7 linked regions of the Homo sapiens genome follow. The protein of the gene in region 1 interacts with the protein of each later gene in a biochemical or structural test. Each region holds a gene or a part of one and is shown in the gene's direction. Other genes may lie near its edges. The genes, in order: SSTR5, LIMK2, RADIL, HTRA1, MPP7, FRMPD3 and MAST2.

Region 1 (3,104 bases):
CACCCCAGGGCTGCCGCCATGGAGCCCCTGTTCCCAGCCTCCACGCCCAGCTGGAACGCCTCCTCCCCGGGGGCTGCCTCTGGAGGCGGTGACAACAGGACGCTGGTGGGGCCGGCGCCCTCGGCAGGGGCCCGGGCGGTGCTGGTGCCCGTGCTGTACCTGCTGGTGTGTGCGGCCGGGCTGGGCGGGAACACGCTGGTCATCTACGTGGTGCTGCGCTTCGCCAAGATGAAGACCGTCACCAACATCTACATTCTCAACCTGGCAGTGGCCGACGTCCTGTACATGCTGGGGCTGCCTTTCCTGGCCACGCAGAACGCCGCGTCCTTCTGGCCCTTCGGCCCCGTCCTGTGCCGCCTGGTCATGACGCTGGACGGCGTCAACCAGTTCACCAGTGTCTTCTGCCTGACAGTCATGAGCGTGGACCGCTACCTGGCAGTGGTGCACCCGCTGAGCTCGGCCCGCTGGCGCCGCCCGCGTGTGGCCAAGCTGGCGAGCGCCGCGGCCTGGGTCCTGTCTCTGTGCATGTCGCTGCCGCTCCTGGTGTTCGCGGACGTGCAGGAGGGCGGTACCTGCAACGCCAGCTGGCCGGAGCCCGTGGGGCTGTGGGGCGCCGTCTTCATCATCTACACGGCCGTGCTGGGCTTCTTCGCGCCGCTGCTGGTCATCTGCCTGTGCTACCTGCTCATCGTGGTGAAGGTGAGGGCGGCGGGCGTGCGCGTGGGCTGCGTGCGGCGGCGCTCGGAGCGGAAGGTGACGCGCATGGTGTTGGTGGTGGTGCTGGTGTTTGCGGGATGTTGGCTGCCCTTCTTCACCGTCAACATCGTCAACCTGGCCGTGGCGCTGCCCCAGGAGCCCGCCTCCGCCGGCCTCTACTTCTTCGTGGTCATCCTCTCCTACGCCAACAGCTGTGCCAACCCCGTCCTCTACGGCTTCCTCTCTGACAACTTCCGCCAGAGCTTCCAGAAGGTTCTGTGCCTCCGCAAGGGCTCTGGTGCCAAGGACGCTGACGCCACGGAGCCGCGTCCAGACAGGATCCGGCAGCAGCAGGAGGCCACGCCACCCGCGCACCGCGCCGCAGCCAACGGGCTTATGCAGACCAGCAAGCTGTGAGAGTGCAGGCGGGGGGTGGGCGGCCCCGTGTCACCCCCAGGAGCGGAGGTTGCACTGCGGTGACCCCCACCCATGACCTGCCAGTCAGGATGCTCCCCGGCGGTGGTGTGAGGACAGAGCTGGCTGAAGCCAGGCTGGGGTAGACACAGGGCAGTAGGTTCCCCACCGTGACCGACCATCCCCTCTAACCGTCTGCCACACAGCGGGGGCTCCCGGGAGGTAGGGGAGGTGGCCAGACCGGTGGGGGGCTCCGCCATGCCGTGCAAGTGCTCAGGGCCGCCTCACCCTCCATCTGGCCCCAGCCCATGCCGGCCTTCCCTCTGGGGAGCGACTTTTCCAGAAGGCCGGCCAGGCGAGAGGGTCTTCCTGACGGCGGAGCTGACCTGCCCGGCCCACCAGCTGCATGTCAGCTCCGAGCCACCGGGTCCCCGTCCAAGGCTGCTCTGCTAAGTTAAAGACACCCGAAAGCGCTTGACTCAGGTCCCCGGAGTCCCTGGCCAGGGCCCCAGCCCCTCGCTTGCCCTGCACTGTGTGGACTCTGGGGATGCAGGTGTAAGGGGAGTGTGGCTGGGCAGCCCCTGGTCAGCCAGGGTCACGCCTGTCCTGGGGGCCCCACCCTGCTGCCCGACACCCCCCATGGGAGGCTGCGGGCGGCAGTTGCTGTCTCAGAGAGGGGAGTGTGGGGGCTTGGGCGCTGGCCTAGCCAGGGGCGAGGTGGGGAGGCGGCTGGTGCAGAGGAGAGCTGGGGGCTGAGGTTGGGGTGAAGGCTGCAGCCCTCCAGGCTGCTGGGGGTGCAGATGGCTGTGCCGTGCTGAGATTGGCTCTGTCTGGAGGGGTCCAGTGTGGGGTGCCTGAGGGCACTAGGGAGAGGTGCTCCTGCTGCAGGAGGACCTGAGGGTCAGGGCTTGGAGAGGACAGGGAACCTGCGGCCGTCTCTTCTGCTTTGGGGCAGGGGCTCTGGCCCGGGAGAGGGAACGGGGACAGGAGCAGAGGACGGTCATCCAGGCGCAGCGGGGAGCTGCTCCCCAGGCCACAGCAGACAGCACTGCTGAGAGGCAGCGGCCGCGCGGGTGACGCAAATGGCAGGCCCTGGGAATCCCGCCGCCTCCCACCTAGAATTGTCCTACCTCCCCCACCCCAAACACCAGCTTTTCCTGGCGCCCCAGGCCCAGAACGTGGGCCCAGAGAGCCTTGCTGGGGTCTCTGGGGCACCTTGGCCTTGCTCTGAGGCTGGAAGGAGAAGGACCAGGGTGCGGCATCACTCGGCCTCAGGGACCCCTCTGCCCTGCCCAGCACTGGCCCCGACCCGTGCTCCCGCCGTCTGCCCAGAGCAGGACCTCAACCTCCTGGAGGGCACAGGGAGCGGCTGAGTGGGCACAAATCCTGGCAGGAGAAAGGCCCAGGCTGAGGCCAGGCCTGGGAAACATCCAAGCAGTGAGGACACGCGTGTTTGACAACTGCTCCCCTGAATAAATGCGAGGATAAATGTTTGATTCTTTCCCCGAGCAAATATTGTCCCTGGAGCCGAGTGCAGCCAGCGCAGAGTGAGCGGAGCCTGGGCTCCCCCGAGGCCCGACACAGGGCCCGCCCCCGGCCCCAGCCCCGCTGAGCCAGACAAGGCCGGGACGGGGGCGGCCAAATGCCCAGCAGGAAGCGGGAGGCGTGGAATTCGTGAACAGGGTGAAAAATGATGGAAGCTGCCTGGGGTCTTAGGCTGGAGCTGCCCCTCACAGCTTCTTGACAGCTCTGGGCGGGGCAGGGTGGGCTTCTGCAGGGGGTCCACAAATCTCTGCCTCTTGAGTCACCAAAGAGGGGTGCATCCAGGGTGCACTGGGGGAAACCGAGGCCCGTTCACACCGCAGCACCCCCCTCGACCTGCCTCCCCAGGGATTTGGGTGCCATGTTCACCCTCTCAGAAGGCTTTGGGGACCGAGCAGATGGCTCGGAAATCCCTGCCAAGATCAATTTCTCCAATTGATTTGACACCGGGC
Region 2 (3,500 bases), on another chromosome or scaffold:
ACTTGTTTTATGCTGCACTGAATTGGCTGAGTTTTGTTCCTGGTTCTCGTTGTCTGGTGGAACGTGAGAAGCTTCAAAGATTTTTTTAAATGAAAGGATAGGATGTTGATTTAAGCTAGGCATTAGAGTCTCATGAGCTCTCAGTGCTTGAGGATTTCTCACCATTTTGAAGCCTAAAAAGGACTCATTTGCAGAAACCAAGCTCTTAGACCAAATTTAAGGTGAACATTGTGGGGACTGCATTGGCTCTGAGCTGGGATACCAGGCCAACCCTTCCACTGAATAGCTGTGTGTTCTTGAGCAAGTCTCAACTTGTCTGAGGCTGCATAGGGTATTAAAAATATGACTGGCATGGTAGTCTCTGAGCATGGGTTTGAATCCCTCCTGGACCATCTTTCAGTAGCTTTGTGGTGGTTAGGCAAGTCTATTTTCCTTCTTTTTTTTTTGGCGCCTGCCCCAGTGGATTCACATTTGTTTGAGGGCCACATTGCTAATTAAGTTGGGAGAGAGAAGCATTCATAAAGTGAATGTAAAGTGAATGTATTTTATACCAAGATTGAAAAGGTCTTAAAGGTGAGAACCCCTATAATGAGACATTTGTTGCAGTGCTCACCTTACGTTGCACAGTTGCACTTATTAAAAGCAACAAATTCCAATAATAACTGAAAACACAGTTTTCTGTTTATTAAACACCTAATAAGGGTCCTTTATTGTTTGAAGGTACTGTGAACATTTACTTAAATCAAGCTCCTTTTCTGGACTCTTCTTTTTTTTATTTTATTTTATTTTTTTGAGACAGAGTCTGGCTCTGTCGCCCAAGCTGGAGCGCAGTGGCACGATCTCGGCTCACTGCAAGCTCCACCTCCCGGGTTCATGCCATTCTCCTGCTTCAGCCTCCCGAGTAGCTGGGACTACAGGCGCCCATCACCATGCCCGGCTAATTTTTTGTATTTTTTAGTAGAGATAGGGTTTCACCGTGTTAGCCAGGATGGCCTTGATCTCTTGACCTCGTGATCCACCCGCCTCGGCCTCCCAAAGTGCTGGGATTACAGGCGTGAGCCACCACGCCCGGCTCTTTTCTGGACTCTTAACAATCAGTAGCCACTGTTGATAAGTCTGCAAATATGAGAGGTAAACACTATAGAGGGAGAGAATGAACAGCCTGGTACAATGAGATATTTTCTTAAGAAAGAACTTCCCAGGCTGACTGGACTTTGGATTGATCCTCCACTAGGCTTCACAGAAATCCCTAAGACTTTGCATTACAGTATTACATTTCTTTTACATTTCCTAGAATAAAGGTGGTAAGAGAATAGATCAATGAATTTTTAAGACTGTAAGAGAGCTAAAGAAGTCAAGAGTGTTCTCTTGAAGAGGGTCTGGGCGTAGGAGGCTGTGTGCTTTGGGTGAATATCTTTGCTCAGGTACTTCCTAACAGAAAAGCAGTGTGAATGCATAACAGGTAAACTGAGGCCAGGTTTATCCACATGAGACTACTCATAGGTAATCTGGGAGCCAGAACAGTTATTCCAGTGGAATCATCTGTGCTGACCTTTGGAACTTATCTTTGGAAATTGCTTTTATAGCTGGCAGTTGGATCCAAATTTTCAGTTGGGTTCACCACACAAAGGAATGTCTGTTTTGCACCAGGCCCAAGGTTAGGCCCTGGAGATAAGAACATAATAAAGATACAGTTCTTACACCTTAGTTCTCTGAATGGGGTGTGGGGGAGGAGAGTGGAGAGAGAGGGACTGAAGGAGAGAGAAACATATGCAGTGAACTGTAATTAAATAACAAATTATGTAAAATAGGTATAGACAAAATGAAACAAACACTGCCTGATTTTAGGGAACTTTAAAGAAAGGATAGAAATTTGATTAAGGGGCCGGGAGCAGTGGCTCACGCCTGTAATCCCAGCACTTTGGGAGGCCGAGGTGGGCAGACCACCTGAGGTTGGGAGTTTGAGACCAGCCTGACCAACATGGAGAAACTCCGTCTCTACTAAAAATACAAAATTAGCCGGGCGTCGTGGCGCATGCCCACAATCCCAGCTATACTCGGGAGGCTGAGGCAGGAGAATCACTTGAACCTGGGAGGCGGAGGTTGTGGTGAGCCGAGATTGTGCCATTGCACTCCAGCCTGGGCAACAAAAGCAAAACTCTGTTTCAAAAAAAAAAATTTTTTTTTTGATTAAGGGAAAAGATAGAGAAGCTTATACATAGAGAATAACTGGAGGTGTGAATGTCAGGATGCAAGTACATGAATAAAAGTGGCAGGAATAGAAAATAGGTCAAAATGTAACTAGAGCATTCTTTTGTAAGGAATGGTGAGAGAGAAGGGTCCTTTGGGACCACATTGTAAGGACCATTTGCTCTTTCAGTAACTGTTTATTGAAGGATTGTAGCAGACCAGGGGCCAGACATGGTTTGCTAGCCCTTTGGAGGTAGCAAAAGCCAACTTTAATGATGTGTGAGAAGTTTTTGTTCCTGCCCCAGGGCCTTTGCACATGTCCCCCCTCTCCAGTGTTAGCCTTCCTTCCCCCCTTTTTTGCCCCGTTAATTTGTATTCATCCTTTAGAGCTCAGCTTGGAAATTACTTCCTCAAGGAATACTTTGGCCGCCCGCCCTTTTCCTAGTTATGAACTTGATATCTTCGTACCACTTGCCCCAATTATAAATAAATAATAATAATAATTATTATTTTTTGAGACAGAGTCTCGCTCTGTCGCCCAAGCTGGAATGCAGTGGAATGATCTTGGCTCACTGCAACCTCCGCCTACCAGGTTCAAGCAATTCTCTTGCCTCAGCCTCCTGAGTAGCTGGGACTACAGGCGCCCACCACCATGCCTGGCTAATTTTTGTATTTGTAGTAGAGACAAGGTTTCACCATATTGGCCAGGCTGGTCTCGAACTCCTGACCTTGTGATCCACCTGCCTCAGCCTCCCAAAGTGCTGGGATTACAGGCGTGAGCCACTGCGCCCGGCCCTCAATAAATAATTATATTATTGTTTAATATTTGCTTTGTGTTTAATCTCTCTCTTGTTTGCTCCTCTTTCCCCAACACAGTGTCAGATGCATAGTTGGCATGCAATAAATATTTGCTGAAAGAATGACTGAAGCGGGTCCATTGAATTTAGCAATAAGCAGTTACTGTTACTGTTGACCTTGGTGAGACAGTTTCAGAGAAATGGTGGGGGTGGAAGCCAGATTGCAGTGCATTATGCAGAAAGTGGGAAGTGAGGAAATGAGGGCAGCGATGTGTAGACAACTTTTTTTCTTTTTTCTTTTTTTTTGAGTTGGAGTTTCACTCTTGCCCAGGCTGGAGTGCAATGGCGAGATCTCAGCTCACTGCAACCTCTGCCTCCCGGGTTCAAGCCATTCTCCTGCCTCAGCCTCCTGAGTAGCTGGGATTACAGGCATGCACCACCATGCCTGGCTAATTTTGTATTTTTGGTAGAGATGTGGTTTCTCCATGTTGGTCATGGCTGGTCTCAAATTCC
Region 3 (3,500 bases), on another chromosome or scaffold:
CCTACTTTGGCCTCCCAAAGGTTTCCTCTTAAACTCACCACTTTCACCTCAGCTGTCTGGGAAGTTGTAGTTTGTCTACGCAGCAGGAGGCTGGCTGGTGTTCCTCAGAGGCTCCTGATATATTCTTGCAATATTTGAGGCCACATCTGTTCTTTTGTCTGATCAGATTATTGTCCAGCTCTCCAGCAGTCATCTCATTGACCATAGCAACCACGCACGCCTTGTTAAATACAGGGTCCCTCCAAGTCCTTTAGCACCTGCGACCTTGTCGGGGAGTTTTTGGGGCAATGAAGTGAAAAGACAATCAAGGAATCTGTCCCAGGCCAAAACCTACGTGGCATTGCCGGGTTGCAAGGTCTCCAGAGGTGACCACGGTGCACTCAGCGTACCGCGGGTCTGTGGGTGCCTGGGTGGTGGGAGGCCTTCCTGAGGAGGGCCTGGCCACGGGCAGCCGATCATTGTCGGTCTGAGGAGTGCCGAGAGCACGGGTGGCGTTGAGTGCCTGCCGCAGAGTTTGAGAGCCCCGGGGCCTGGGGCCCACTGTGTCTGGTGATTTATTCAATTGGTGGAAAGAAGTTGATTATCTTAATAGGTGTGTGTCATAAAAAATAATTTTGGCCAGGCGCGGTGGCTCACACCTGTAATCCCAGCACTTTGGGAGGCCAACGCAGGTGGATCACCTGAGGTCAGGAGTTGGAGACCAGCCTGGCCAACATGGTGAAACCCCGTATCTACTAAAAATACAAAAATTAGCCGGGCGTGGTGGCAGGCGCCTGTAATCCCAGCTACTCAGGAGGCTCAGGCAGGAGAATCGCTTGAACCTGGGAGGCGGAGGTTGCAGTGAGCCGAGATCATGCCATTGCTCTCCAGCCTGGGCAACAAGAACGAAACTCAGTCTCAAATATAAATAAATAAATAAAATAAATTTGGCCGGGTGTGGTGGCTCACACCTGTAATCTCAACACTTTGAGAGGCCAAGGTAGGAGGATCGCTTGAGCCTAGGAGTTTGAGAGCAGCCTGGGTAACATAGTGAGGCCCCATCTCTACAAAAAATAAAAAAATTAGCCAGGCATGGTGGTGCATACCTATGGTCCCAGCTCCTCAGGAGGCTGAGGTGGGAAGATGGCTTGAGCCGCAGATGCTGCAGCCAGGATTGTACCACTGCACTCTAGCCCAGGCAACAGAGTGAGACCCTGTCTCAAAAAAATAACAATAAAAAGAGTAACTTGTGGTTGCTTTAATTATGGCTCTTAAAGTCTGCTCAGACAAGCACCCCCAATTGCCTGCACCTGGGGATCCTTCCTCCACCCAGAGGTCGCCACTTCTGGGATTTGGTTTTCATCCTGACCCTGCCATGTCACGATCCAGTGGTCCCTTGGAAGGACCGGTGATCCGGTGGCAGAGATGGGGTCCCTCCCCTCCTGATTCAAAAAGACCTCCTGTGAGGCCAGGAAACCCGAAAGGGAGGAGGCGCATGGTGGGATGTTTTCTGCACGGGAACAAAGGCTCTTCAATGTCAGACACAGAATTTCGGTCATTCTTCCACCATGCGTTGCCTCTGCCAAGCAGCGGGCAAAAAGCGAGTGGGACAGGGCCACCTTGGGGCTGCAGAGCACGGGCCAGGGTTGCTGCTGTGTGGCTGGGGATCAGCCTGGCCTGTCCTCAGGCCATTGCGTTGTGTGTCACCGGGCGAGGAGGAGCCCTGGGAAGGCCCGCCGTCTTCACAGGTGATAGGCGACTGCCAGTGTAGGATGGTGGGGCCAGAGTGCATGTTGCAGGAGACAGGAGCTTGTCTGAGGCTCACGTGCTTCTTTTTTTTTTTTTGAGATGGAGTCTCTCTCTGTCGCCCAGGCTGGAGTGCAATGGCATGATCTCAGCTCACTGCAACCTCTGCCTCCCAGGTTCAAACGATTCTCCTGCCTCAGCCTCCTGAATAGCTGGGATTACGGCATGCACCACCACCACGCCCGGCTAATTTTGTTGTTGTTGTTGTTGTTGTTGTTGTTGTTGTTGTTGTTGTTGTTGGAGATGGAGTCTCGCTCTGTCGCCCAGGCTGGAGTGCAGTGGCACAATCTCGGCTCACTGCAAGCTCCGCCTCCCGGGTTCACGCCATTCTCCTGCCTCAGCCTCCCGAGTAGCTGGGACTACAGGCGCCCGCCACCACGCCCGGCTAATTTTTTGTATTTTTAGTAGACACGGGGTTTCACCGTGTTAGCCAGGATGGTCTCCATCTCCTGACCTTGTGATCCGCCCGCCTCGGCCTCCCAAAGTGCTGGGATTACAGGCGTGAGCCACCGCGCCCGGCCAATTTTTGTATTTTTAGTAGAGATGGGGTTTCACCATGTTGGCCAGGCTGGTCTCGAACTCCGGACCTCAGGTGATCTGCCCACCTTGGCCTCCTAAAGTGCTGGGATGACAGGTGTGAGCCACCACACCCGGCCAAGCTCATGCACTTCTTTTGGAATCATTCCTGTTAAATTATTCAGGGCGAGCGAAAGCACCCCTGCTCACAGCCTGTCTAAGCTCGTGGCGGTTTTCGAAACCTGCCAAAGAGAGTCCATCAGGCTGCCCAGCCATACTGACACACTCATCTGGGCTGGAGCAGGTTGTGTTACCTACCCAGAGCTGGCCCCCTGGGCCTCGGGCACTCATCCTTCCTTGCTGACCTTCTCTGGCTGTGGCCCAGGGACTCCTGTGACCCTCAGCCATGCCAAGAAGGTTCACTGAGGCGGCCGGGTGGTTTGAGATGGAGCAGCTGGTAGAGGCATGCACACATGCTTCTGCTCATTACAGAACGGTTATTGAGCCTCTGCCTGGAGCCGGGGGAAGGCTAGACCCAGGGGGTCCCCACGTGGATAAGCCAGGCTCCGCTGGGGATGACCCCGCACAGACCTTACTGTAGCTGGACAGCCCTGCCTCAAACAGGCCCGCGCCCAGAAGCTTTGCGCTAGAGTGTGTTCGGTTGTTGTGGTGACACATGGGTACCTGGACAGAGAAATGTCCACACAGGTGCTCACACACACAGTCTCCCACTTGGAACTGTTCCCTGCGTGAGACACCTGCACGGCCTTTCCGTGGGTTGGAGGCGGCCTCTGTGCACATCCCTGGAACCCGCCTCTGAGAGGTCTCTCCTGCTGGCTTGGAGGCACGGAACGGGGAGGGCACTGAGCCTTTGCTGTGTCCCACGTCCCCCTGAGTGAGTTTGCAGCCGGCACTAGGCGATTCCTCCCTCGCCCCTCCAAGGGGAACGACTGAGAGCCAGAGAAGGGGAGGAGGTGGGAAGCCGAGGGGTTTTTCACTGTAGCAGCTTCTCCAGCAGCCGTGGGCGCCAGCCTGCCTCAGGTTGGAGTGACGTGGAAGAATCGTGGTGGGGAGGCTTTCCTAACACCCACCGTGTCCTCTCCATTACATACCTCCGGTGATGGTGAGCTCTGCGCCTTCCAGCAGCCCGCCTGTCCTGCGCCTCCCTGGGCACCGATGGGGCTGCTGTGGTGTCTGTT
Region 4 (3,500 bases), on another chromosome or scaffold:
TGAATGAATGAAGACAAACGGGAGGTGCTTGCGATACACAGCCATTCTGTTTTTCCTTAGTGGAAGGCACTGCTTTGCTGCGCCCCCTCTCTGGATCTCACACTCCACCCTTGACTTTTCGGAGGTGTTTCCGAGGACAGGCGCCTGGGAGCCAGCAGACTTCATTCAGTCCAAGCCAGGCTCCAGGACTCAACAGCTGGTGCCCACGGGCAGGTCACTTGACGTCACTGTTAAATGAGGTGAATTGGCTGCCTGCTCTGGCTGGAAGATTGGCGGGAGAGTCACTTTAGCTGCCATGGACATGAGCCTTTTCTAGGGGTGCCACTTGACTAGAGGCCTGGAGTTGGAGCAAGTCATACACGGATCTGGAGACAGAGCTCTCGAGGCAGGAGCGGGTGCTGCGATTTCAAATATTATAAGGTGGCTTTGTCTGGGGCAGAGCATGCCAGGGGATGAGAGGTAGAAATGTCATCAGATCAGGGGTCCCCAGGGAGGTGACTAGCACTTTGGGTCACAGTAGATCTTTGGATAGAGGAACATGTCACCATTCAAAGGAAAGCACTTTCATCTGTAAGCTGTTTATTGAATAGACCTCAGAGAACATCTCTGCTCACCGCTCTGGAAATGAAGGCAAATCATCTATTTCAGAAGTCAATGCACTGGCAGGGTTTGGATGGGAAAGTATACAATTCAGCTAGAGAACAAAGATCTGTCATCTCCAGCTGTACTGGTCAGATGATTACAAAAAAGAAAGGAATTGAAATACTAATAGGGTACTAATAATGAGGGCTAACATATATGTTGTGCTTATTCTATGCCGGGTGCATACTAATTCATTTGATCCTCCGGACAGTCCTATGAGTGAGTGCTGTAGTCTTCCCTGGGTTACAGCTGGGCAGCTAAGTCACAGAGAAGTACCTTGCTCAGGACTGGTGGTCCCACACAACTGGATGGAGAGCCTCGTTCATAACCACCATGCTGTGCTGTTGACAGAGCAACAGAGATTTTAAACCAACCCCAGCTAAGCCCCAGCTAATAGCTGAAATAAACAGGGCTCCAGATGGCTGTGGCTTAGAGATGGAACAGGACAGATCACAGCCTTCACTCTGCAGGCTCAGGAGCCTGAAGACAAGGTTGCCTCCAGTTGCCGTCAGTGCAGCCCTCACTAAAGAAAAGCAAAAAGAGCCGAGGGACTGTAGGAAGGCTGTTTCCAAGCCAGAGATCCAGACAAACTGCTCTTGAAGAGAGAAAGCCCTTCCAGATTCCCCCATGTCCCAAAAGACCAGCCGGGATTCCGGACCTCTGCTAAAACATGGACAAGAAGCCAGGAACGAGACCTGAAACAGACTTCCCAAACAGCAGAAGCCTCATCCATTTCTCCTGCTAGTACATCCTCCAGGAAAGCCCACCCTACTCCATGCAGCAGCCCAGACAAGCTTGGAGGTCTGCAAGCTGCAGGGGTGCCCAGAAACTCCACCCCTGGAGGTTTTTAGGATCGCCTGCTCCTGGTCTCACCCCAGAGCCTCTAAAGGCAGAGGCTGTATGTACATACCTGGTGAAGAACCAAGGGCTTAGATGGTTGCTTTACTTCTTGGAGCCCTGGAATGTTTGTAAAATTTACTTTTTTTTTTGAGACAGTGTCTCGTTCTGTCGCCTACGCTGGAGTGCAGTGGCGCGATCTCGGCTCACTGCAAGCTCCACCTCCCGGGTTCATGCCATTCTCCTGCCTTAGCCTCCAGAGTAGCTGGGACTACAGGCACCCGCCACCACGCCCAGCTAATTTTTTTGTATTTTTTGGTAGAGACGGGGTTTCACCGTGTTAGCCAGGATGGTCTCCATCTCCTGACCTTGTGATCCGCCCGCTTTGGCCTCCCAAAGTGCTGGGATTACAGGAGTGAGCCACTGCACCCGTGCCAAAATGTACTTTATTTAGGTGACTCTTTCGTGGGAACCTCAAACAAGCAATCATTGCTAGCTGAGTGCTGACCCTGTACTGAGCTCTGGGGAGACAGGGTTGAATAAAACAAAGTCACTGCCCACAGGTAACTTATATTCAATACAATGGGGGAAAATACAATCACTGCTTCCCTGGGGTTGTATTTTTCCATTGTTAAAGTGGGCAGTTTGCTCGAGAGTCATTTTCACTATTGGCAATTCAAATACACCTTTTGTCAGTTAAAAAACAAGTGTGCCAGGGACCTGAGCTTCATCTTAGGGCAGGGTGGGTGGAAACATTTGTGAGTCTCCAGCTTTTAGTCACCTGAAACTTGGAAACTTGGAGGTCTTTTGAGCAGTTTATGAGTCTCTGCCTGCTCTGGTCGGCTGCCTTCTTTTATTGCTCTGTTGGTTTTGCTAAAGAGTTAAAATATTAAGGCTTCATAAAATTAGGAAGTTAACAAGCTCAAAAACCAAGTGTTTGAGTTACTTCATTCCACTGAGAGAGCTGTAAATGGGTTGCATTGGAACTTAAAATAACTGCATTGAGTAAGTGATGGTGGCGGGCACCATGAGCTAACTGTGGTCAGAAGCCTGATGGCCTCCGCTTTGGGGCTGGATTCTCCGTTTGGAGCTGTGTGATCCTGGATGAGTTTCATGCCTTGGATTCAGAAATCAGACTTTCCATGAGCTTATATTTCAAGTGAATAAATAGCTCTGGTCAGGCTTAATTTGAAGAAGAAGTAAGCTTGGCAGTGGGTGAGGGTTCCTTGGAAGGCCAACTGGGGCGGAGGGGCTGAGGGCAAGCGGCTCTGGCCCTTCCTGGGGTGTTACCTGACCAGGTAACAGCTCCCTCGACCTCTCGGAGCCTCGGCAGTGAGGGGATTGGGCCAGTTGATCTCTGAGGCTCCTTTTAACTAGAATGGTCTGGGATTTTTCTAAGAAAACAAGTCTTTGAGGAGGTTGTGGTCACCTCATTCCTAATTTAAAGCCTGGGGAGGCTTCCTTATGAGCTACTTCTTTTTCCTAAATTATTGATGGTTAAAGCCAAGGCTGGCATCGAATAGATGTGATCCATCTTGAGCCTGGTTGCTTTGTGTTTCAGCTTTGTACTGGCTGCTGAAGTCCCCGGGAGACCACAGGGGTGACATGTTCATCTCCAAGAGATGAGCTTCCACGAGACTCATACCCCTTGCTCCTTCCCTGGGGCTCCAAGGCCTTTGGGTCATCTGAAGTGAGATACCCTTGTGTCATTTCATCTTTTCCTTCTCCACCTTCTCTGCCGTTAAAAAAAAAAGAAGAAAGAGAAAAATCCTATTAATAGAGAAACCGAGAAGTGTAGCCATTCTGAATGTGTTTCCAAAAGGCTCCTGGAAGTGGCATGGAAGTTACAGTGATTCAGCACTACTTGGTGACGTGTGCCTAGAACCACAGGGGGACATTAGCCAGGACAACACGCCTCAGGACAGAAGTAAGTGGCTGCGAAGAGGCATGTCCATCACTGCCGGAAAGATGCAGAGTTCAGTTTTTGGAGTCAGTGCTGAGAGTTCCATTTCTAAATTCAT
Region 5 (3,500 bases), on another chromosome or scaffold:
CCAGGCATGGTGGCTCACGCCTGTAATCCCAGCACTTTGGGAGGCCGAGGCGGGCGGATCACAAGGTCAGGAGATTGAGACCATCCTGGCTAACACGGTGAAACCCTGTCTCTACTAAAAAATAGAAAAAATTAGCCGGGCGTGGTGGTGGGCGCCTGTAATCCCAGCTACTCGGGAGGCTGAGGCAGGAGAATTGGCCTGAACCCAAGAGGCAGAGCTTGCAGTAAGCTGAGATCGTGCCACTGCACTCCAGCCTGGGCCACAGAGCGAGACTCCGTCTCAAAAAAAAAAAAAAAAAGTCTTGAATTTTGTTAAATGAGATACATTCGGAAGGAAAGGGTATTCCTTCATTTTGAATTTAAAGTGAAGGAAATTGTTAGTCAGGCTTGCTCTCTGAAGATACTGTGTTTTTTACAAACTGAAGGTTCGTTGGCAACCCTGCAAGTCGATTGGTGCTATTTTTCCAATAGTGTATGTTCATTTTGTGTGTCTCTGTCATATTTTGGTAATTCTCACAATATTGCAAACTTTTCATTGTTATTCTGTCTGTTATGGTGATCTCTGGTCAGTGATCTTTGATGTTACGATTCTAATTGTTTTGGGGCTCCATGAACTGCACCTATATAATATGGTGAACTTAACTGATAAATGTTACATATGTTCTGATATCTCCACCAACTGGCCATTCCCCAACTCTCTTCCTCTCCCCAGGCCTCCCTATTCCCTGAGACACAACAATATTGAAATTAGGCCAATTAATAACTCTACATTGGCATCTAAGTATTCAAGTGAATGGAGAGTCGCGTGTCTCCCACTTTAAATCAAAAAGCTACAAATGAGTGAGCTTAGTGAGGAGGTCATGACAAAAGCTGAAACAGGCCAAAAGCTAGGCCTCTTGCACCAAACAAGCGAGCTCTGAATGCAAAGGAAAGGTTCTTGAAAGAAACTAAAAGTGCTACTCTGCTGAACGTCCAAATGATAAGAAAGTGAAACAGCCTTATTGCTAATATAGAGAAGGTTTTAGTGGTCTGGATAGAAGATCAGACCAGCCACAACATTCCCTTAAGCCAGCAGAGCAAAACCCTCTCTTCAATTCGATGAAGGCTGAGAGAGGTAAGGAAGTTACAGAAGAAAAGTTGGAAGCTAGAAGAGGTTGGTTCATGAGGTTTAAGGAAAGAAGCTGCTTCCCTAATGTAAAAGTGCAAGGTGAAGCAGCAAATGCTGATATAGAAGCTGTAGCATGTTATCCAGAATATCTAGCTAAGATCACTGATGAAGGTGGCTACACTGAACAACAGATTTTCAGTGTAGATGAAACAGCCTTATATTGGAAGAAGATGCCGTCTCGGACTTTCTTAGCTAGAAGGAAGTCAGTGCTTCACCTCAAAGGCCAGGCTGACTCTTTTGTTTGGAGCTAGTGCAGCTGGTGACTTTAAGTTGAAGCCACTGCTCATCTACCATTCCAAAAATTGTTAAGCGTCATGCAAAATCTACTCTGCCTGTGCTCTATAAATGGAGCGACAAAGCCTGGATGACAGTACATCTGTTTATGGCGTGGTTTACTGAATCTGTTAAGCTCACTGTCGAGACCCACTGCTCAGAAGAAAGGGTACCATTGAACAAGTGCTGCTCATTGACAATGCACCTGGTCACCCAAGAGCTCTGATGGAGATGTACAAGGAAATTAATGTTTTCATACCTGCTAACACAACATCCACTCTGTACCCATGGATCTAGGAGTCATTTCAACTTTCAAGAGTTATTATTTAAGAAGCACATCTTGTAAAGCTATAGCTGCCATAGATAGTGATTGTTCTGATGGATCTTGGCTAAGTAAATTGAAAACCTGGAAAGGATTCACAATTCTAGATGCCATTAAGGGCATTTGTGATTCAAAGGAGGAGGTCAAAATGTCACCATTAACAGGAATTTAGAAGAAGTTGATTCCAGCTCTCATGGATGACTTTGAGGGGTTCAAGACTTCAGTGGAAGAAGTACCTGCAGATGTGGTGGAAATAGTATACTGAGAACTAGAATTAGAAGTAGACCCTGAAAATATGACTGAATTGCTGCAATCTTATTATCAAACTCGAATGGATGAAGAGTTGCTTCTTCTGAATGAGCAAAGAAAGTGGCTTCTTGAGAGAGAGTCTATTCTTGGTGAAGATGCTGTGAGCATTGTTGAAATGACAATGAACGATTTACAATATTCTGTAAACTTGGTTAATAAAGCAGTGGCAGGGTATGATAGGATTGACTTCAATTGTGAATGAGGTTCTACTGTGGGTGAAATGCTACCAAAAGAGAGATCTTTTCTGAAAGGCAGAGTGAGTTGATGTGGCAAACTTCATTTTTTTTATTTTTTTGAGACGGAGTCTCGCTCTGTTGCCCAGGCTGGAGTGCAATGGCACGATCTTGGCTCACTGCAACCTCCGCCTCCCAGGTTTAAGAGATTCTCCTGTCTCAGCCTCCTGAGTAGCTGGGATTACAGGTGCACACTGCCACAGCTGGCTAATTTTTTATATTTTAGTAGAGATGGGGTTTCACTCTGTTGACCAGGCTGGTCTTGAACTCCTGAGCTCACGCAGTCCACCCACCTCAGCCTCCCAAAGTGTTAGGATTACAGGCGTGAGCCACAGCGCCCGGCCTTATTGTTTTCTTATTTTAAGAAATTGCCACAGCCATCCATCTTTCAGCAGCCAGCACCTTGTTCAGTCAGCAGCCATCAACATCAAGGCAAAATCCTCCACCAGCAAAAAGATTATGACTCCCTGAAGGCTCGGATGATCACTAGCATTTTAAAAAAATTATAAAGCATTTTAAAATTAAGAGCTAATGCTATTGCCAACATAATAGACTACAGTATACTGTAAATATAACTTCTATATGCACTTGGAAAGCAGAAACATTTCTGTTACCTTATTGCAGTGTTAGTTTTACTAAGGTGGTCTGGAATGGAACATGTGATATCTTCAAGGTATGCCTACGATTTCAGAAATAACCTCTCCTATTGAACCCTCTGATTCTTCCTGTGTTCAGAAACCCAGACCAAAGTGTAGATTTATTGGTCTTTATTTATGAGTAGTTGAATTTTTTTAATGTCTTGTGTTTTGTTTAAATTTTATGTAAACTGCGGCTTAGCTCTTTCAGCATAGTCTTATGCTTTGCTTTCTTAGATTACTGAGTCTTTAAAAGAACTGGTAAAGTGCATATGTGTGGAAAGATTATTTGCTACCTACTATGAACAGATACTTAAGTAAAAAAACAAAAACAAAAAAACCCAAGATGTTTTTTCCAGGCATATAAATGTTTTTTTCTTGAAGAGGCATTTAGTCTTTCTATTTACTAGAACATTATCAGCTTGCTTTACTTATGAAAGAGAGGAGACCATTCTTTTCTCTGTGAATTTAGGAGCTATTTGTCAGGCTTGTTTATTACTGATTGGGTTGCTTGTTACTGATTGTTAGAGAAGGGAGATGAAAATACATAGCAGTTGCGAT
Region 6 (3,500 bases), on another chromosome or scaffold:
CTGAGCATGTATCATGTGGAAAGCACTGGACCCTAGGGAGGCACATGTTTTCCATGGAAATGACTAGGCTGGTGTGGTGGCTCATGCCTGTAATCCCAGCGCTTTGGGAGGCCAAAGCAGGAAGATCACTTGAGCCCAGGAGTTTGAGACCAGTCTGGGCAACATAGTGAGACAGCGTCTTTACTTTTAAAAAAATAATTTAAAAAAAATGTAAAAAAAGGAAATGTACCTCTGTACCTCTAATTCATCAGTCCTAGGGTGTGGAATTCTGGGAGACAAAACCCCAGCCCAGGGGAAAGTGGGAGAGTTGGGGGCACAAGACCTGACCTGGAGAATGGGTCACTGGGTGGAATGGTGAGGGATCAGGTTACTGCCTCCACTTTCTAGTGCTCTGAGGGACTCCCACTGTCTGCTTTCCCAAGCCCCGCAGCAGCTTCTTAGCTTTGTAAGATTCAATCTGCCTGTGCTTCCTGCCCTAGAAGCAGGAGAGTGGTGAGACGCACTAGAATCAGCATGCAGATGTACATATGGGACGCAATCGCCCCATACATTCCTCCCATTCCAGATTTCTTGCATTACCAACTAGCTTCTCTTTTAAGATGCAAATTTCCCCGGAGAGTTAAGCCATTCCCACCTTGCTGTGAATATTTAATCAGATTGTTTTCTTCTCAACTGAGAGCATCAGTGCTCACCACCATCTCCTCAGGTAACATTTTTTTCGAGGCACCCCAGTGCTTGGGTTGGAAATATGAAGATGAAGAGGGCCTGGTCTTGGCCCCTGAGTCAGGCACAGTCTAATGGGGAAACACATTAGTCAGTCCCAACACAGTGCATTAGGCACAGGTGCTCTGGAAGCACAGAGGAAGAACACTAAGCCCAGCCTGAGGGAGGTGGAAAAGGCCAGAGCTGGGTCTTGAAAGACAGATAAGAGTTTGTCTAGATTAATCCGTGGGCATGGGTCATGGGAGGAAGTGTTTCCCAGGCAGAGAGATCCATCTGTACAAAGGCCCAGAGATATGAGAAACCATGGTGCAAGGACAGAAATGCAAATCATTCAGCCTAAGCAAGTACAGAAAATGCAAGCTGTGTGCAAGGGGTGAAGATAGGGGCAAGAGAAGAGGCCAGAGAGGTTGGCAGGAGCCAGTTCATGGAGGGCCTTGTGTGCCAAGGAAAGAGGTTGTACTTCATCCTCTAGGCAGCTGGGAGCCATTGAAGGGTTTAAAGCAGGGAGCTGATGTGATTAAACTTATGTTTTAGGATGCTCCCTCTAACAGTGTGGAGGCACTTGAGGGAAAGAGGGAAACAAGTGTCAGTCCTGAAGGTAACCTGGCTGTCACCCTGACACAGGTGGGAATGTCAAGGCAATGACTGGCTAGAGAAGAGGGATGGATAGATTGGAAAAGGAGCTAGGGGGTAAGTATCCAGATGATCTGGTAACTGCTGGCTCTCACATGAGGCGATTAAGGAGGAGTCCAGTGTGACTCACAGGTTTCTGGCTTGATTGCCCAGGGGATGCTGATATAGACCAGGAATGCCTGAAGTGCAGGCTTGGGACTTAGGAATGCTTAGTATGAACGGTATTGAGTGGGACCCCCAGCTGGGGAATGACCAGCATGTACATGACTCTAGGGGTCTGAAACATCTCAGGAGAGAGGTATGGATTAGGTGGGGCGTCAGTTAGTTGGAATTAAACCAAAAACAAAATGAGTAAGCTGGATACTTTAGGAATGAAGATCAGGAGGTAGGACAAGATTTTAGAAAGGGAGATGAGATACTAGAGGGAAGAGCTGTCCAAACTAGAACCTTGCTGCTGTTTTAAGAAGGGCATCTTCACATCTCCACAGTGTCACTTGCTGACTGGTGCCTGTCCTAGGATGTTGAGACTCCTCGTTGAGAACATGGGTTTGCTTTTCCTGTGCCCCTCAGGCTTCTCATATTTCTGGATGGGTTTTTCCACAGGGCTCTGCAATTCAGGCAAAGCTCCAGTATCTACGAATTCTGAATGAACTTCCTACCTTCACGGGCGTTTTGTTCAACACTGTAGGCCTGGTCAGTGGCGCAGGATTGGGGGATGTGGGGAGGGAGCCCCTTGTTGGCTCTTGTCCTTGGGTGTGGGGGCAGGAGGGGCAAATATTTCTAAAGGCCTTCGTTCCTCTTCCTCCTCCTTCTACCTCTTACCTCCCTGGCCCTGCCTCTGCCAAAATGATAAAGTGGGAGGAGATATTTGTTTTGAGTATCCCTCCATGACCTTTTTTTGTTCCTCTTCCTCGATTTGGGGGCGCAGCATACTTTTTCCATAAAGGGCCAGATAGTAAATATTTTAGGTTTTGCAGGCGGGCCATACTGGCAACTGTGGCAACTACTCAGCCCTGCTGTCAGATTATGAAAGCAGCCACAGACAATGCATAAACAAATGGGTGTGGCTGTTTACCAATAATTATTTATGGATACGAAAATTTGAATTTCATGTACTTTTCACATGTCACAAAACATGCCTCTTCTGATTTTTTTTCCCTACCATTAAAAAATCTAAAAACCATTCTTAGCTCCTGGGCCATAAAAAATAGGTGGTGGGTGGTATTTGGCCCATGGGCCATGGTTAGGCAACCCCTGCTCTATTTCATTTTTGTTCCACATACTCCCACAGTCCCCTACCCTAGGTTTCCTGAGTCCTTCTACTTCTCCCCCTGCTTGCTCAGCACCTTTGCTGCAGGAACAAGGCTCTGGGGCAGGGCACAGCTGGTCCCACCCTAAGACTGTGCCCCAGGCTAGTTTACCCTGGTGAAAGGAAATTCAAATCACCTTGCTAATTGGATCCAGGTGCTTGTCTTGCTCCCAGGAGCACATTGTCAGCTAGTGCGGCACATCGGTGGAAAGCCACTTATCAAAGTGCCTATAGACAGGCACAAGAGGTTCCTCAGGGTGATGCTAATACCAGGGAATGGGCCTCCAGACGACCCAAGCTTGATTGCTCCAAGGAATCTGTCAAGACCTCTTAAGGGAATCCAGTCCTTCAGGCCGAGAGGTAGCCATTTACATACTGGGATTTGCAGAACACTGAAAGCCCACTGTCCCCTCCCACCTCCTTCATACACTGTCAAATCTTTCTTCCACCCACCTACCACTGCTAAAATTTCTATTGGCCATACCTGCTGGAGTGCCCATTAAAAGGCAAATCTCTGCTTAACGAGGGAGGCTGCCATGAAGTACCCAATCAACCCTCAACACCTTAGGCAGAGTTACTGTGCCAGTTTAGTTTTTGGCCTGGGTGAGAAGTGCAAGTTTGAGTGGCTGTTGGTGGGGGGAGGGTAAAGACCAGACACAGGATGCCGCCTTCTCAGGCAGAGCACTGGGTGGGGGCCTCAAATGGCCTGCAGCAACAAATGGAAAGCCCCTGGGGCTTGGAAGGGGAGGGTGCTCCAAAGGCCCCCAAACAAACCTCACCTACTTCACGGTTTTGCTTGAGCTAGCCCTTCTGCCTGTGCACTTTACTCAACCTG
Region 7 (3,005 bases), on another chromosome or scaffold:
CAGCAGCATGGAGCGGCTCTCACTGCTCGAGGAGCGCCGGACACCACCCCCGACCAAGCGCAGCCTGAGTGAGGAGAAGGAGGACCATTCAGATGGCCTGGCAGGGCTCAAAGGCCGAGACCGGAGCTGGGTGATTGGCTCCCCTGAGATGTGAGCACCCAGAGTTCACCCAGGGTGGGCGACACAGCTATCCCTGCATTGTCACAGATCATGGGAGAGATTCCGATGCCAGGGAGGAGTGCAGGTGGCAGGGAGGGGGCATTCACAAGGGTGGCTCCTGGAGGAATGTCTGCGGAGGAAAGTTCTGTTACTATAACCCTTGTGTGCCCCTAAGGAGACCTGGCAGGAGGAGGGGGACCACCTGGGTCACTCACCCCAGGCCTTGTGTCTCATAGATTACGGAAGCGGCTGTCGGTGTCTGAGTCATCCCACACAGAGAGTGACTCAAGCCCTCCAATGACAGTGCGACGCCGCTGCTCAGGCCTCCTGGATGCGCCTCGGTTCCCGGAGGGCCCTGAGGAGGCCAGCAGCACCCTCAGGAGGCAACCACAGGAGGGTATATGGGTCCTGACACCCCCATCTGGAGAGGGGGTATCTGGGCCTGTCACTGAACACTCAGGGGAGCAGCGGCCAAAGCTGGATGAGGAAGCTGTTGGCCGGAGCAGTGGTTCCAGTCCAGGTATGGCCCAGTGGGCGGCCAAACGACCTAAGCTGGAGGATACTGCAGGGCAGGGAGGCTCAGCGGCATCGCGGGTCTCACTGCTTACTTGGGCCTACAGCTATGGAGACCCGAGGCCGTGGGACCTCACAGCTGGCTGAGGGAGCCACAGCCAAGGCCATCAGTGACCTGGCTGTGCGTAGGGCCCGCCACCGGCTGCTCTCTGGGGACTCAACAGAGAAGCGCACTGCTCGCCCTGTCAACAAAGTGATCAAGTCCGCCTCAGCCACAGCCCTCTCACTCCTCATTCCTTCGGGTGAGGCCCCTGGGGAGCTGGGATAAAACTCACAGGAAGGGCCTTGTAATCTCTAGGCCTTGGGAGGGTTCTGCACGTGGCAGGTGTGTGTGTGTGTGTTAAGCACAGATCTGACTGTGGTCTCTGAAGGTGTGTATTGGTGTCTGGGGTTGTGTATACATGTGCCAGAAAGCAGGACAGCACCATGTCACAAGTGCAGGCTTTGGGGTAGAGAGCTCACACTCAAATCCTGGCTCCATCACTAACAGGCTCTTGACCTTGAGCAAGTTGCTTAACTTCTCTAAGCCTCAAGTTTCTTATCCAAAAATGTGGATATAATAGAGGCCAGCTGATAGGTTGTGACATTTAAATATATATGACAAGCTTATATAGTCCCTGATACACACATAAATGCTAGCTGCCATTTCTCATCACCACCACCGTCTCTTGGGGTCTGGACACGGGAGAGGGCTTCACAGGTCAGGGGCTGTGGGGAAAATGGACCTAGGCTCAGGCTCTGTCTGTGACTAGAGTTGTGCTGACATCAACAGACTGGACCAGGGGCCAGGCCAAAGCCCTCTGACCCACTAAGTCCTGGCTTCTCCTTCTCCAGAACACCACACCTGCTCCCCGTTGGCCAGCCCCATGTCCCCACATTCTCAGTCGTCCAACCCATCATCCCGGGACTCTTCTCCAAGCAGGGACTTCTTGCCAGCCCTTGGCAGCATGAGGCCTCCCATCATCATCCACCGAGCTGGCAAGAAGTATGGCTTCACCCTGCGGGCCATTCGCGTCTACATGGGTGACTCCGATGTCTACACCGTGCACCATATGGTGTGGGTATGTCTGACCATCCAGACCTGCTGTCTCCCTGCTTCATCATCCTTCCAGCTTCCCCTTTGTGGAGCCCATCTGTCCCTGCTCGGGGGTCAAAGGGTGGTGGTGAAGGGGCTCACAGCTTAATGTCCAGAACCAGGCCCCATACTTCGTGTTCAGGCTCCAGTCTGAGTACTGTTCTCTTCCTGGCACAGCACGTGGAGGATGGAGGTCCGGCCAGTGAGGCAGGGCTTCGTCAAGGTGACCTCATCACCCATGTCAATGGGGAACCTGTGCATGGCCTGGTGCACACGGAGGTGGTAGAGCTGATCCTGAAGGTTAGTGCTGGGCGTGCTGCCTGCATGGTCCCTGAATGACCTCAGCCTGTGAGTCTGTGATGGCAGTTAGGGGAGTGGGTGAGTTGGGTGCACACACATCTACACCGAGTATGGATGTAGGTACACACAGGCCGGGCGCGGTGGCTCATGCCTGTAAATCCCAACACTTTAGGAGGCTGAGGCAGGTGGATCACTTGAGACCAGAAGTTTGAGACCAGCCTAGCCAACATGGTGAAACCCTGCCTCTACTAAAAATACAAAAAAAAAAAAAAAAAAATGCCTGGGTGTGGTGGCTCACGCCTGTAATCCCAGCACTTTGGGAGGCCGAGGCGGGTGGATCACCTGTGGTCAGGAGTTTGAGACCAGCCTGCCCAGCATGGCAAAACTCTACTAAAAATAACAAAAATTAGCCAAGCGTGGTGGTAGGCACTTGTAATCCCGGCTACTCGGGAGGCTGAGGAAGGAGAATTGCTTGAACCTGGAAGGCAGTTTGCAGTGAGCTGAGGTCATACCACTGCACTCCAGCTTGGGAGACACAGCAAGACTCTGTTTCCAAAAAAAAAAAAAAAAATTAGCCGAGTGTGGTAGCACATGCCTGTAATCCCAGCTACTTGGGAGGCTGAGGCAGGAGAAGTGCTTGAACCCAGGAGGCAGAGGTTGCAGTGAGCTGAGATCGCACCACTGCACTCCAGCCTGGGTGACAGAGTGAGACTCTGTCTTAAAAAAAAAAAAAAAAGATGTAGGTACACACAGAACTTGAATGTGGCACAACAGAGAGTTTTCTCCACAAGGCAGTACCCTCCCTGACTAAGGCCCAGGGATCCTTCTGAGCTGTGGGTAGGGCTGCAGAATGGGACGGATTAGCCTGTTTTCTACCTTCTTACCCCAAACCACTCTG

What was found.
Region 2: the proteins of SSTR5 (region 1) and LIMK2 interact in a test that uses a peptide from one of them, tested with the Homo sapiens proteins (one large-scale study listed by IntAct).
Region 3: the proteins of SSTR5 (region 1) and RADIL interact in a test that uses a peptide from one of them, tested with the Homo sapiens proteins (one large-scale study listed by IntAct).
Region 4: the proteins of SSTR5 (region 1) and HTRA1 interact in a test that uses a peptide from one of them, tested with the Homo sapiens proteins (one large-scale study listed by IntAct).
Region 5: the proteins of SSTR5 (region 1) and MPP7 interact in a test that uses a peptide from one of them, tested with the Homo sapiens proteins (one large-scale study listed by IntAct).
Region 6: the proteins of SSTR5 (region 1) and FRMPD3 interact in a test that uses a peptide from one of them, tested with the Homo sapiens proteins (one large-scale study listed by IntAct).
Region 7: the proteins of SSTR5 (region 1) and MAST2 interact in a test that uses a peptide from one of them, tested with the Homo sapiens proteins (one large-scale study listed by IntAct).

The regions. Positions count from the first base shown.
Region 1 is NC_000016.10:1,078,851-1,081,954, forward strand, and holds the end of SSTR5 (somatostatin receptor type 5), read left to right. Parts: 5' UTR 1-18; coding exon 19-1,113; 3' UTR 1,114-2,604; downstream 2,605-3,104.
Region 2 is NC_000022.11:31,218,798-31,222,297, forward strand, and holds part of LIMK2 (LIM domain kinase 2), read left to right. Parts: intron 1-3,500. UniProt on the Homo sapiens protein: Serine/threonine-protein kinase that plays an essential role in the regulation of actin filament dynamics. Acts downstream of several Rho family GTPase signal transduction pathways.
Region 3 is NC_000007.14:4,873,717-4,877,216, reverse strand, and holds part of RADIL (ras-associating and dilute domain-containing protein), read left to right. Parts: intron 1-3,500. UniProt on the Homo sapiens protein: Downstream effector of Rap required for cell adhesion and migration of neural crest precursors during development.
Region 4 is NC_000010.11:122,464,553-122,468,052, forward strand, and holds part of HTRA1 (serine protease HTRA1 precursor), read left to right. Parts: intron 1-3,500. UniProt on the Homo sapiens protein: Serine protease with a variety of targets, including extracellular matrix proteins such as fibronectin. HTRA1-generated fibronectin fragments further induce synovial cells to up-regulate MMP1 and MMP3 production.
Region 5 is NC_000010.11:28,296,565-28,300,064, reverse strand, and holds part of MPP7 (MAGUK p55 subfamily member 7), read left to right. Parts: intron 1-3,500. UniProt on the Homo sapiens protein: Acts as an important adapter that promotes epithelial cell polarity and tight junction formation via its interaction with DLG1. Involved in the assembly of protein complexes at sites of cell-cell contact.
Region 6 is NC_000023.11:107,561,152-107,564,651, forward strand, and holds part of FRMPD3 (FERM and PDZ domain-containing protein 3), read left to right. Parts: intron 1-1,959; coding exon 1,960-2,049; intron 2,050-3,500.
Region 7 is NC_000001.11:46,030,612-46,033,616, forward strand, and holds part of MAST2 (microtubule-associated serine/threonine-protein kinase 2), read left to right. Parts: coding exon 1-150; intron 151-395; coding exon 396-679; intron 680-779; coding exon 780-974; intron 975-1,566; coding exon 1,567-1,793; intron 1,794-1,984; coding exon 1,985-2,107; intron 2,108-3,005. UniProt on the Homo sapiens protein: Appears to link the dystrophin/utrophin network with microtubule filaments via the syntrophins. Phosphorylation of DMD or UTRN may modulate their affinities for associated proteins. Functions in a multi-protein complex in spermatid maturation.